3 linked regions of the Homo sapiens genome follow. The protein of the gene in region 1 purifies or fractionates together with the protein of each later gene. This does not show direct contact. Each region holds a gene or a part of one and is shown in the gene's direction. Other genes may lie near its edges. The genes, in order: RIOK2, DCK and BEND3.

Region 1 (3,099 bases):
ATATATAAATAGAACAGATATTAGCAGTGTACTTTTTGAAATGGTTCATTATCAGTAATACTAATTTATGAAATCTTTCCAGGAACTGGTGAAACAGAAGGTGAAACGTCAGTTGACAAAACAGCAAAAATCAGCTGTCAGACGTCGATTGCAGAAAGGAGAAGCAAATATATTTACCAAGCAACGTAGGGAAAACATGCAAAATATCAAATCAAGTTTGGAAGCAGCCAGCTTTTGGGGAGAATAATATATTTAGGATCTTGGATATGTTTAATATATTTTTTAAAGTTACTGTAATTCCTTTTTGAGCCCTCATTTGTCTTTTTTGAGCCAAGGCTATCATATATTAATAAATAAACCCTCTTTCATCTATAAATTTGGTCATTCAGTATGTGTCTTGCAAAGAATAATTACCTGCCAAAGCAGTCCATTTTTTTCAAAGTAATTTGGGTAACTACAGTTACGTAACTTTATTAGAGACATTTGCATATTTTTAAAAATCTAAATAACATTTTTGTTGTTTTCTGTTTGTTGAGGATGATATGCTACAATGCACATAAAGCAATTAGAACAATGTTTAGCACATTCTTAAGCATTCAATAAAACATGGCTATTAGAATCATAATGATTCTGAAATTCTGCTGACAATTTGGTTGCATTTTATTTGGCAACTGGAGGACTTCACTGTCTTATTTTTCTTTAGAAGTAAAGATAAGCCTTTGGAAGTAAAGATAAGCCAGTGATGCACAATTTGCTTAATTAATTGATTAATAATCTGTTTTGTGCCACTTACATTGGTAATGTGGTCATGAGAATGGAAACTTACTTGAGATAGTCTACCACAATTTTTACAGTTGGCAGCTTGTAAGCAGGCCTGAGTAGCAGAAGAGTTAGGGGTTGGGGAAGGTGGAGTAGAATGAGGAATGAAATGTTCTTTCTCATATGCTTATTATATAAGTGGGTCCGGAACATGTTCTCACCTCAAGGTTAACAAATACCTAATGCAGGAAAGAAAATACATAGCCATGGTCCCTTCCTCAAGGACTTTATAATTCAGTGAGATGTAAAGATGAGTGCTTAAGTGTATGCACCTGATTATTGTCTCTTCATTGCCGCATAAGTCGGAAAAGGGGATCACTTGCAGCGAAAAATGGCCACTAGATGGCAATATCACCCCATAGTCACCAAACAGGATTACTTGCATCCCTAATTATGTTCTACCAGAGGGAATATAGTACAGACTTTTCCAAGATTGATAAAGACAGCAGATTCCCTTTCACCTTTGCCAAATTAACTCTACTAGCTATTTGCAAGACCTGTAATTATCTAATAAATTGGCTTAAATATATAGAAGCTAGAAAATGCCAATTCCTCTTCCCTCAAAAGTTACCTGACATTCAAATATTTAAATACCCTTGCTTTGCATTTTAGATATATCTTTGAATTCAGGTATTCATTTTGTATAATCTCTCAACTTTTAAGCATTTTTATAATGTAAAGTTGAAAACAGCTTAATAGAACCACAGAATGTTTATTTTGGAGTCATTTTCTTATATTCAGAGCTATGAAAGCAAATTGGGAATAAAGCCTTATCCTGCTCAGCTTTACCTAGTTGACTCAGTTGACTTTTGAGTATCTACTACATAAAAAGCCCATTACTATTAAGAAACTCAAGACAAACATGATTTTTACCTTTAATAGCCTAAGATTTCTTGTGGGCCAAGGAATTAATTATTCCAATCAGAAATGGAGGCCTTACCTCATTTGGGCAAAGATTAGTGCTAGTTATTGAAGATTTACTAATAAATGATCTGTTAAGGAATTTAGTTTTTTTTGGATATGTTGTTTTGGTTGTTGAAAACTAAGGTATAATTATAATAGTTATTTTTTGAAGATATGTTTGGCTAGCCATCAATTAGAAGTTAGAGAGTTTGTCCTAACAGATAAGCTATAACCCTCACATTTTAAAACATGCATAGTGAACAATGAACAAAAACAAATTCAAAATTTTACTAATGTAAAGCTGTATATTGTGATTGTTAAAACACTTTTTTTTGCCTAGGAGTTCCAGATTTAAATCCTGGTTCTACACTTCCCAAACCTCAGGTACCTTCTGTGGCCTCTCTAACCTCAATTTTTTTACTTGTAAAATGGGGACATTTAATAGTATACCTCAGTGTCGTGAAGACTAAATGAAGTACCACTTGTAAAGAGTTTATTACAGTGCCTGACATATACTGTATGGTTAGTACTGCTAAAATGACTTCTTAAGGTTACCAAAAGGAAAATTCCACAAGCTGACCACCTTTCCTATTGTGATGGTCACTGGTATTTCAGCTATGATCCTTTGTTGTGTATTTATCCAGACTGAAAGATGTTTTTCTAGTAACCATCTTGCATCGTCTTAGTCTCCCCATTAAATAAACTTTTCCTACAAACTATGCGGTTTATATTTGTGCTAACTTTGTGGTATTGATAGCCATTGGTCTGTTCTTTGGCACATAGCTGGCTATCTTTGAGGTTTCTCCAAAACCATAGATGTTTAATGGATACTAATCAGAGTTAGTGCAGCTCGAGATAATCATTCTTTTAGCCAACTGCTTAGTAAATTTTCTGACAAAATACATAGCTGTCTAATTAAAAAACTCTGCCTGATGCTGCCTTCCAGGTTGCTACTTACAAAGGATAGAGGGATGAGTTATGTTAGGTTCTCAGAGCACTTTCTGAAGTGTAGGTTTATTTCACTGTCACAGATTCAGCACTCTGGGTGGGCTACAGTTCGCCATGCCCAGTCTTCTTTATCCCTCCTTAGAACATCTCCCTAGAGAGCATCAGGCCATATCTTAATTCGCCCTTGCTTTAGTTTATGAAGTACTGGAGCCATCTTATGCACCTGTGTAAGGAGGCTGGAGATTAAAGTTCAGAAAAGCCATGGGTTACACAGTTGTGTAATAACCAGGAGTATGGGGATAACTCCAAAGCTACAATACTTTTATAGAGAACTGTGTCATTCACAAAACCTATGTTGTTAGATTTTAAAGACTGCAAGTTTTTCTTTTACCTTAATATTGTAAATAATGACATTAAAAATATTAACAT
Region 2 (3,541 bases), on another chromosome or scaffold:
GATGAATGTAAATGTTATGACTTCTGGCCTAAAATTAGAATACTGTGTTGCTGTCGAAGCTGGGTTTTCAAAGAAATTAGGTTTCCTATTCCAACGGATGATTTTGTTCTTCATTAAGTAAAGATTTTGTTCTTCATTAAGCAAGGATTTAGCAATTTTTTAGCAATTTCAAAAGTGAATTTTGAAATTCACTTTTATTTTTGAATTTTTTTGTTTTTAATTACAAAAATAGTAAATAAAAATGTGAAAAAGAACATAAGGAATATGAATAATTTCATTTTGCTTGAAACATTTATAGTCACTATTAAGCTAGAATTTAGCAAATATAATAATTTTGAAATTCACTTTTATTTTTGAAAAGGTTTCTTAAAGTTATGAAAATAGTACAAACACCAAAAACATAAATAATACTAATAATTTCATTTTGATACTGATAATTTCATCAGTATTGTTTCTGATATCTTTGGATGAAAGGATTGTTTAATTATTGAAAAGAGAATTTAGAGTAGAGTTTGAAACACAGTTTGTATGCTGCCATGGTCTTATGCATGTCATTTAGGTTGGAGGCTTTTATTTCTTGGAATGCATGAAGAGTTTCTCATGGTATATGAGCCCCCACAAATTATACGAAATTTTTTATGTATGTGTGCTTTTGGGGGACCGTTATCTAGAGCTGCACTGTCCAATGTGGCTATTTAAATTTAGGGTTATTAAAATTAAATAAAATTTAGATATTTAGTTCCTTGGTCACCACACTAGCCATATTTCAAGTGCTTAAAAACCACAGGTGGCTGGTGGCTACCTTATTTGATAATGCAGATATAGGACAGGCATAAAACATTCCAAAGTTGTTTTGGTTGTGCTGATATAGAGTTTTCATCACATTAAGAACCACTGTCTTTAGTGGTTTTATGTGAACTGAACATAGATATTTTGTAATCAAGGTTGGTTAACAGCAAAGTAAGATTATGTTTATAGATTGGCATACCTTTTAGCTGTTGTCTCTGAACATTTTAAGTAGATGTTTAATTTTTTTCTCCTTTTTATCAAACTTAGTATATTTCATGTGTGGATGGATACCAAAAATTTATAGGCTTATTTTTGAAAGTACTGCTTGGCTTAGAGCCACCAAGTGGCTGAAAAGCTCATGGAGGGAAAAATGAATTATTTCAGCTTTTAAGAAGTAATAAGTAGAGATTTTGGCTAGCGTGAGTAGAGAGACACAGAAAAGAAAATTTTGATGGCAGCAGACAAGAATAATTGTTCCCTGCCTTTTTCTTCCATCTCTTATTACTTGCTTTTAGACATGCTTACATAGAATATATTTACGGGGAAGAAATGAAGAGCAAGGCATTCCTCTTGAATATTTAGAGAAGCTTCATTATAAACATGAAAGCTGGCTCCTGCATAGGACACTGAAGTAAGACTTATTTTTATTTACTATTCATTTTAAATACCTTTGTTACCTTTGTTAAATTTTAATCTAAAATTTGGAAGATATGACTAGCAATATGTAAAATTTCCAGTCGTTTTGCTTATTGGTATCTTCCAGAACTAGGTATAGATTTTCATTCTCTTGATTGCAATGAGATCCTATTTACTTAAAGTTTTTATAACTAGTATCCCTTGGTGGTATTGATAGCGTAATATGTGAAATTTCACTTTAAGTGATAAAGTAGGAATATATCTGAACATTATTTAGGTACTCTTTCAGAAAGAATTTTGACTTGGGAGATTGTATAGCGTGGTTGTTGAGAGGATAGACTTTGTTATTAGTCAGATCTTGGCTCAAGTCCAGTCTTACTGGTGTGTGACCTTGGATAGCCTCTGAGCTTCAGAATGACAATTCTGAGCTTTAGTTTTCTCATCTTTAAAAATGCAGAAATTCCTACTTTATTGACTGCTATTTGTTTTTGAAGAGAATCATATGTTACAGTACCCAGCTGTATATATTTTGTACCTAAGTTTTTGGGCTCCATATGGTAAATCTAGATGAGAAAGAAGGGGCTGCCAGATGAAGTACTGCAAAGTAACTTTAGTGTAAATGATTGACAACATTTTGATTTTCCAAGGACATACGAATGAATTTTTAATGTTTCTCTCTTTTTTTTGTTGAATTTCTGATTATTTTATTAATCTCTCTTTTTAAACAGAACCAACTTCGATTATCTTCAAGAGGTGCCTATCTTAACACTGGATGTTAATGAAGACTTTAAAGACAAATATGAAAGTCTGGTTGAAAAGGTAGATTTAGACAGACTACAAACAAATATTTGTTTTTTCTAAAAAAGTGTACTGAGTGGTGAGAAAACAATTTTCTAACAGAAAAGCTTCCATAAAGTTACATTAAGAAACAGTTAAGAGCTTTAGAAGATTTTGGACTGTTTAAGATTCCAGTCCTGACTAAATTCTAGCTTTGTGGCCTGAGCTAAAATAAAGATCCTTCGGAATCTCAGAATCTGACAGATCTTAGAAAAAAATTAAATAAATAAAAATAAAATAAGGATTTTTTTTTATCCTTTAGTGCCTCTATCTGTAGGATAGGTAAAATTATAATAACAAAAATTCTTTCTCACCCCCTTTTTCTCTGCTTTGTCCCCATTTCTTCCTCTCTTCCCTACACCACCAATCTTTAGATACTTTAATAATAAACTGCTTGTGAAATTAAATTTATCTTTTTCAACTAAATTCAATATGGAGGATATTTAAAGTTACAGGATATGGATCTCATCTATTTTTATGTTGGCCAAAGTCTTGAGATTAAGGGATTTTAGTTTTGAGTTTCATTTGGGATCATGTCAAGGATTAATTGACATTACTTAATCATTGAGTCATTGTCTTAATCACAGTTCATTTATTGCCCAAATCACTGGGAGTTGACTATATTCTGTTAAGTGAGTGGTGCCCATATTGATAAAGGGAATGGGTGAGAATTTATTGATGAATATTTGAGAGAGAATAGTAAGGGAATTGGTATAACAAATATCCCTATACCCATGTTGATAACTGAGTGATTAAGCTATAAAGAAGAAAGCACAATTTGGTTTAGTTTTGAGAAAAATTTGATTTTTCCTTTCTTTTGTGGCATAATGTCTGCTGTTTAATAGAGACTTGACATTCATAAGGGATATATCAAGGATTTTGAAAATCTTGACATTTTATGTAACTACTGTAGCGTATACATGTAGTTGTTTTTCCCATGGTATGAACTAAAGCTTATCTGGAAAATTCCAATGACCTCTTCATACTACTAATGATGTTAAAAATATAGGATAAATTCACTTACAATACTATTAAATGAAAAGTCAGCATTAAGTATTAACAGCCAACCATCAATTTAACTGACTTTGTAAATCACTTTTTAATTTTATCTAACACTTCTTTGTTTTGACTAAGAATCATTTCACATTATTATATTTACTTTTATTAATAATGCTAGCAGTTGACTTTCTTATTAAGGTATTTTTACAAGGCAATAATTTTTGTTTCTTGAGAATTATTGAGTAGCCTAGAATATGTAGAGAACAAGCATATTCTTACA
Region 3 (3,658 bases), on another chromosome or scaffold:
TTTAAAGTCAGCCCTCTTGGCTGGATGTGGTGGCTCATACCTGTAATCCCAGCACCTTAGGAGGCTGAGGCGGGTGGATCTCTTGAGGCCAGGAGTTCGAGACCAGCCTGGCCAACATGGCCAAACCCCATCTCTAGTGAAAAATACAAAAATTAGCCAGGTGTGGTGGCACATGACTGTTGTCCCAGCTACTCGGGAGGCTGAGACAGGAGAATTGCTTGAACGCGGGATGCAGAGTTGCAGAGAGCCGAGGTCGCACCACTGCACTCCATCCTGGGCAACAGAGCGAGACTCCATCTCAAATCAATCAATCAATCAACCCTCTTAATTTTTTTTCTACCTGTGGCCACCTCTCCTCTTGTCTGATTTTCAGTTATTTCTGACTAGTGAAACACAGTTGCATCAGTATCAGGGCATTGATTGCTCAATTGAATAAGTCATTTACTGGCCTTTTCTTGTATGTCAGGGGCTGTTTTGGTTTGAGCATGGAGCTAGCAGAGCGAAGGACTGAGGCTTGCTTAGGATTGGGGGTGCAGTATACACCCAACTGCCCCGAACCCTAATCAGCTTGTGTGGTCACAAAATAAAACACTTGATAAAATGGGAAGTGCAGCGGAAACTCAGCTTATACCTCCTAGGAAAATTAGTCACCGTTGTGCAGTCAGTCACATGGCTGGATGCTGGAATGTGCGGTCCCTCCTTCCACCTTGAGCCTCAGCTTCTGCATGCCAAGGTTAATACGCAGAGTCTCCTGTGAGCCATGTGAGGAGGTAGCCCTCCACGAGGTTGGGGAGAACGTAAGTGGAACTTCTTAGCTGAGGAAGATGGCACATTTACTCAAGACTCAGAAGACGCAAGTGACCAAAGATTAAGACGCCAAATCACAGGCGCGCGGGCAGGGTTGTGCGGCTGTGCTTGGCTGCATGCGGAAGATGAGGTTGTGCTCTGACTGAATAAGGAAGGCAGCTACAATTACAGCTTTAGAAAAACTCTGGGGAAAATTGCCCTGGTTTTGTGAGGACTGGTATTTTTCAAACTGCATTTGCAGATGTGCCTAAAAATAAAAACAAATTGCGAACATGTCCTGCAAGTCCCTTGGGCAGGATGCCACTGCCAAGGGGGCTGGGTCCTGAGACCCTTGAGGCTCCCAGCCGGTCCTGTGAACCCAGAGACCCGCGGCACCAGAGTGGATGGCATGGGAACATTCCTCCTGTCCTCAGGGAGAGCATTTTATTTGGTTTCATCCCCCTCCCTCCAGTTTCTATGTTTCATTGGAAAGAAAAGTTACTAAACCTTTTTAATCTTTTAAGCCATTTTATTTAATTTGCAGTTCTTAAAAATTCACTATTAAAATGTACTTTAGGCTGGGCGGGATGGCTCACACCTGTAATCCCAGAACTTTGGGAGGCCAAGGCAGGTGGAACTTTGAAGCCAGGAGTTCAAGGCCATCCTGGCCAACATGGTAAAACCCCGTCTCTACTGAAAATACAGAAATTAATCAGGCATGGTGGTGCCCACCTGTAATCCCAGCTGCTTGGGAGGCTGAGGCAGGAGAATCGCTTGAACCCAGGAGGCAAAGGTTGCAGTGAGCCAAGATTGTGCCACTGCACTCCAGCCTGGGCGACAGAATGAGACTTTGTCTCAAAAAAATAAAAAAATAAAATGCACTTTAAACATCTTTTCCTTAAAAAAAAAAAAAGAAGCTTTATAATAGGTAACTTTGAGTGCTATGTGTCAGACACTTTCTCCTTTGTAGTTTTCACAAAAACTTTTTGAGGTGAGGTAGATGTGTCCAGCTCCTATTACAGAATACAGCTTGGATGGGTAGGTAAACAGCTGGCCTGGTGTTAGATGCTAAATATTTTAACTCGGTTAAAAACCTTTTTGGGCTGGGTGCAGTGGCTCATACCTGTAATCTCAGCACTTTGGGAGGCCGAGGCGGGTGGATCAGCTGAGGTCAGGAGTTCCAGACCAGCTGGGCCAACATGGTGAAACTCTGTCTCTACTAAAAATACAAAAATTAGCCGGATGTGGTGGTGCATGCCTGTAATCCCAGATACTTGGGAGGCTGGGGCAGGAGTATCACTTGAACCCGGGAGGCAGAGGTTGCAGTGAGCCGAAATTGTGCCACTGCACTCCAGTCTGGGCGACAGAGCGAGACTCCGTCTCAAAAAAAAAAAAAAAAAAGCCCTCTTTGAAAACTGGGCTGGGTTAAGGGTCAGGTGTGGTGGCTTGCATCTGAAATCCCAGCACTTTGGGAGGCTGAGGCCGGAGGGTTGCTGGAAGCCCGGAGTTTGAGACCATTTTGGGCAACACCTGGAGACCCTGTCTCTACAAAAAATAAAAAATTAGCTGGGTGTGGTGGCGTGCACCTATAGTCCTAGCTACTCACAGGCTGAGATGGGAGAATCATCTGAGCCCAGGAGTTCAAGGCTACAGTGAGCTCTGATCATACTGCTGCACTCTGCCTGGGTAACAGAGCAAGACCCCCATCTCTGGGGAAAAAAAAAATGAAAAAACTGGATTAAAAGCCAGGGTTTCATGCAGTTCCATCTGACTCCAAAGTTTAGTAAAGAATTCCATTTTTTGGAGGGTCACCTGCACTAATTCCTGCCTTGGTCACAGACTGGCCCATCTGGCTTGTTGACTTGCTCATGCACCTGCACCCAGCTCACAGCTTAGCAGGAAGAGGGAAAGAAAGCTGGGAGGTCATGGCCCATTCCTCAGTCCCAGCTTCCTTGGAAGGCTGGAATGAAGCTCTCATGCCGGGAGTCTCCTGAAGTCCTTCCTACTCCCTGGTCTCAGCTGCATCCCTTGGGCAGCACAAATCACCCCACCCCCGCCCCGTTCCCTATCTGCACAAGAAGCAGTGCTGGTGGGGACTGTGTGGGTTGACATATGTAACACTTAGAACATGAAGCCTGTGCCACATGAATACTAACTACTGTCCCCCTCTTCTAGGTTTAATTTTTAGAAGTCAATGTCACCTGTAGCAGAGAAGTTCCTTGAAATCAAATCAGACATATGGCAATTGTGAAAAGATTGAAGTAAGGTTTAGGTCTTGGTTAAATTTTTAAAATCCTTGAGTTTGTTTTGTTAATGACTGAGCATATTCTCTCCACTTTACCTTTTGTGTGTGGCAGGGGCCACACAGCCACCATCCCTATTGTTTCAGGTTCCAATCACATTCCTGTTCTGGGGCCCACATTCTCAAGGGAATCTTCTGGTAGTGAGAGTTTGCTTCAGTTTGCATCTGGAAACAGCTCTTAGGGGTAAGGGGGATTTGCCCCTGAGTGGCATGAGGTCAGGGCTGCTGGGGCCAGGTCTTCCTGGACTGGCACCTCAGCACAGTGGCGAGGACATCTCTGATCTAGCAGGGTAAAATCCGGAGTCAGCTGGCTGGAATTTGAACCTCCAGGTTGCAGGAAGCCCAAGTACTTCCCATTTCTGGGCCTGCCGCTTGTCCTGTGTGACTCCCCGGCCCACAGGCCTCTGGCAGCTCTGATTAGGCTCACGCTGCTGTCCCAAAAGACCTGGTCTGTCTGCTCTCTCCACAGCAACTGACTATTCAAAGAACTTGATAGAAAGGTACCCCGGGCCACTCCCAGCCGCCTATGGGTTCACTAGAGAATGTCCTTTTGGAAATCTATGGGCTGGA

Evidence for each region.
Region 2: the proteins of RIOK2 (region 1) and DCK purify together in Homo sapiens (affinity purification with mass spectrometry, with the first as the bait; one large-scale study listed by BioGRID). This does not show direct contact.
Region 3: the proteins of RIOK2 (region 1) and BEND3 purify together in Homo sapiens (affinity purification with mass spectrometry; one large-scale study listed by BioGRID and IntAct). This does not show direct contact.

What each region holds. Positions count from the first base shown.
Region 1 is NC_000005.10:97,160,209-97,163,307, reverse strand, and holds the end of RIOK2 (serine/threonine-protein kinase RIO2), read left to right. Parts: intron 1-82; coding exon 83-247; 3' UTR 248-2,441; downstream 2,442-3,099. UniProt on the Homo sapiens protein: Serine/threonine-protein kinase involved in the final steps of cytoplasmic maturation of the 40S ribosomal subunit. Involved in export of the 40S pre-ribosome particles (pre-40S) from the nucleus to the cytoplasm.
Region 2 is NC_000004.12:71,024,512-71,028,052, forward strand, and holds part of DCK (deoxycytidine kinase), read left to right. Parts: intron 1-1,304; coding exon 1,305-1,420; intron 1,421-2,153; coding exon 2,154-2,244; intron 2,245-3,541. UniProt on the Homo sapiens protein: Phosphorylates the deoxyribonucleosides deoxycytidine, deoxyguanosine and deoxyadenosine. Has broad substrate specificity, and does not display selectivity based on the chirality of the substrate.
Region 3 is NC_000006.12:107,105,466-107,109,123, reverse strand, and holds part of BEND3 (BEN domain-containing protein 3), read left to right. Parts: intron 1-2,961; exon of another isoform or gene 2,962-3,047; intron 3,048-3,658. UniProt on the Homo sapiens protein: Transcriptional repressor which associates with the NoRC (nucleolar remodeling complex) complex and plays a key role in repressing rDNA transcription.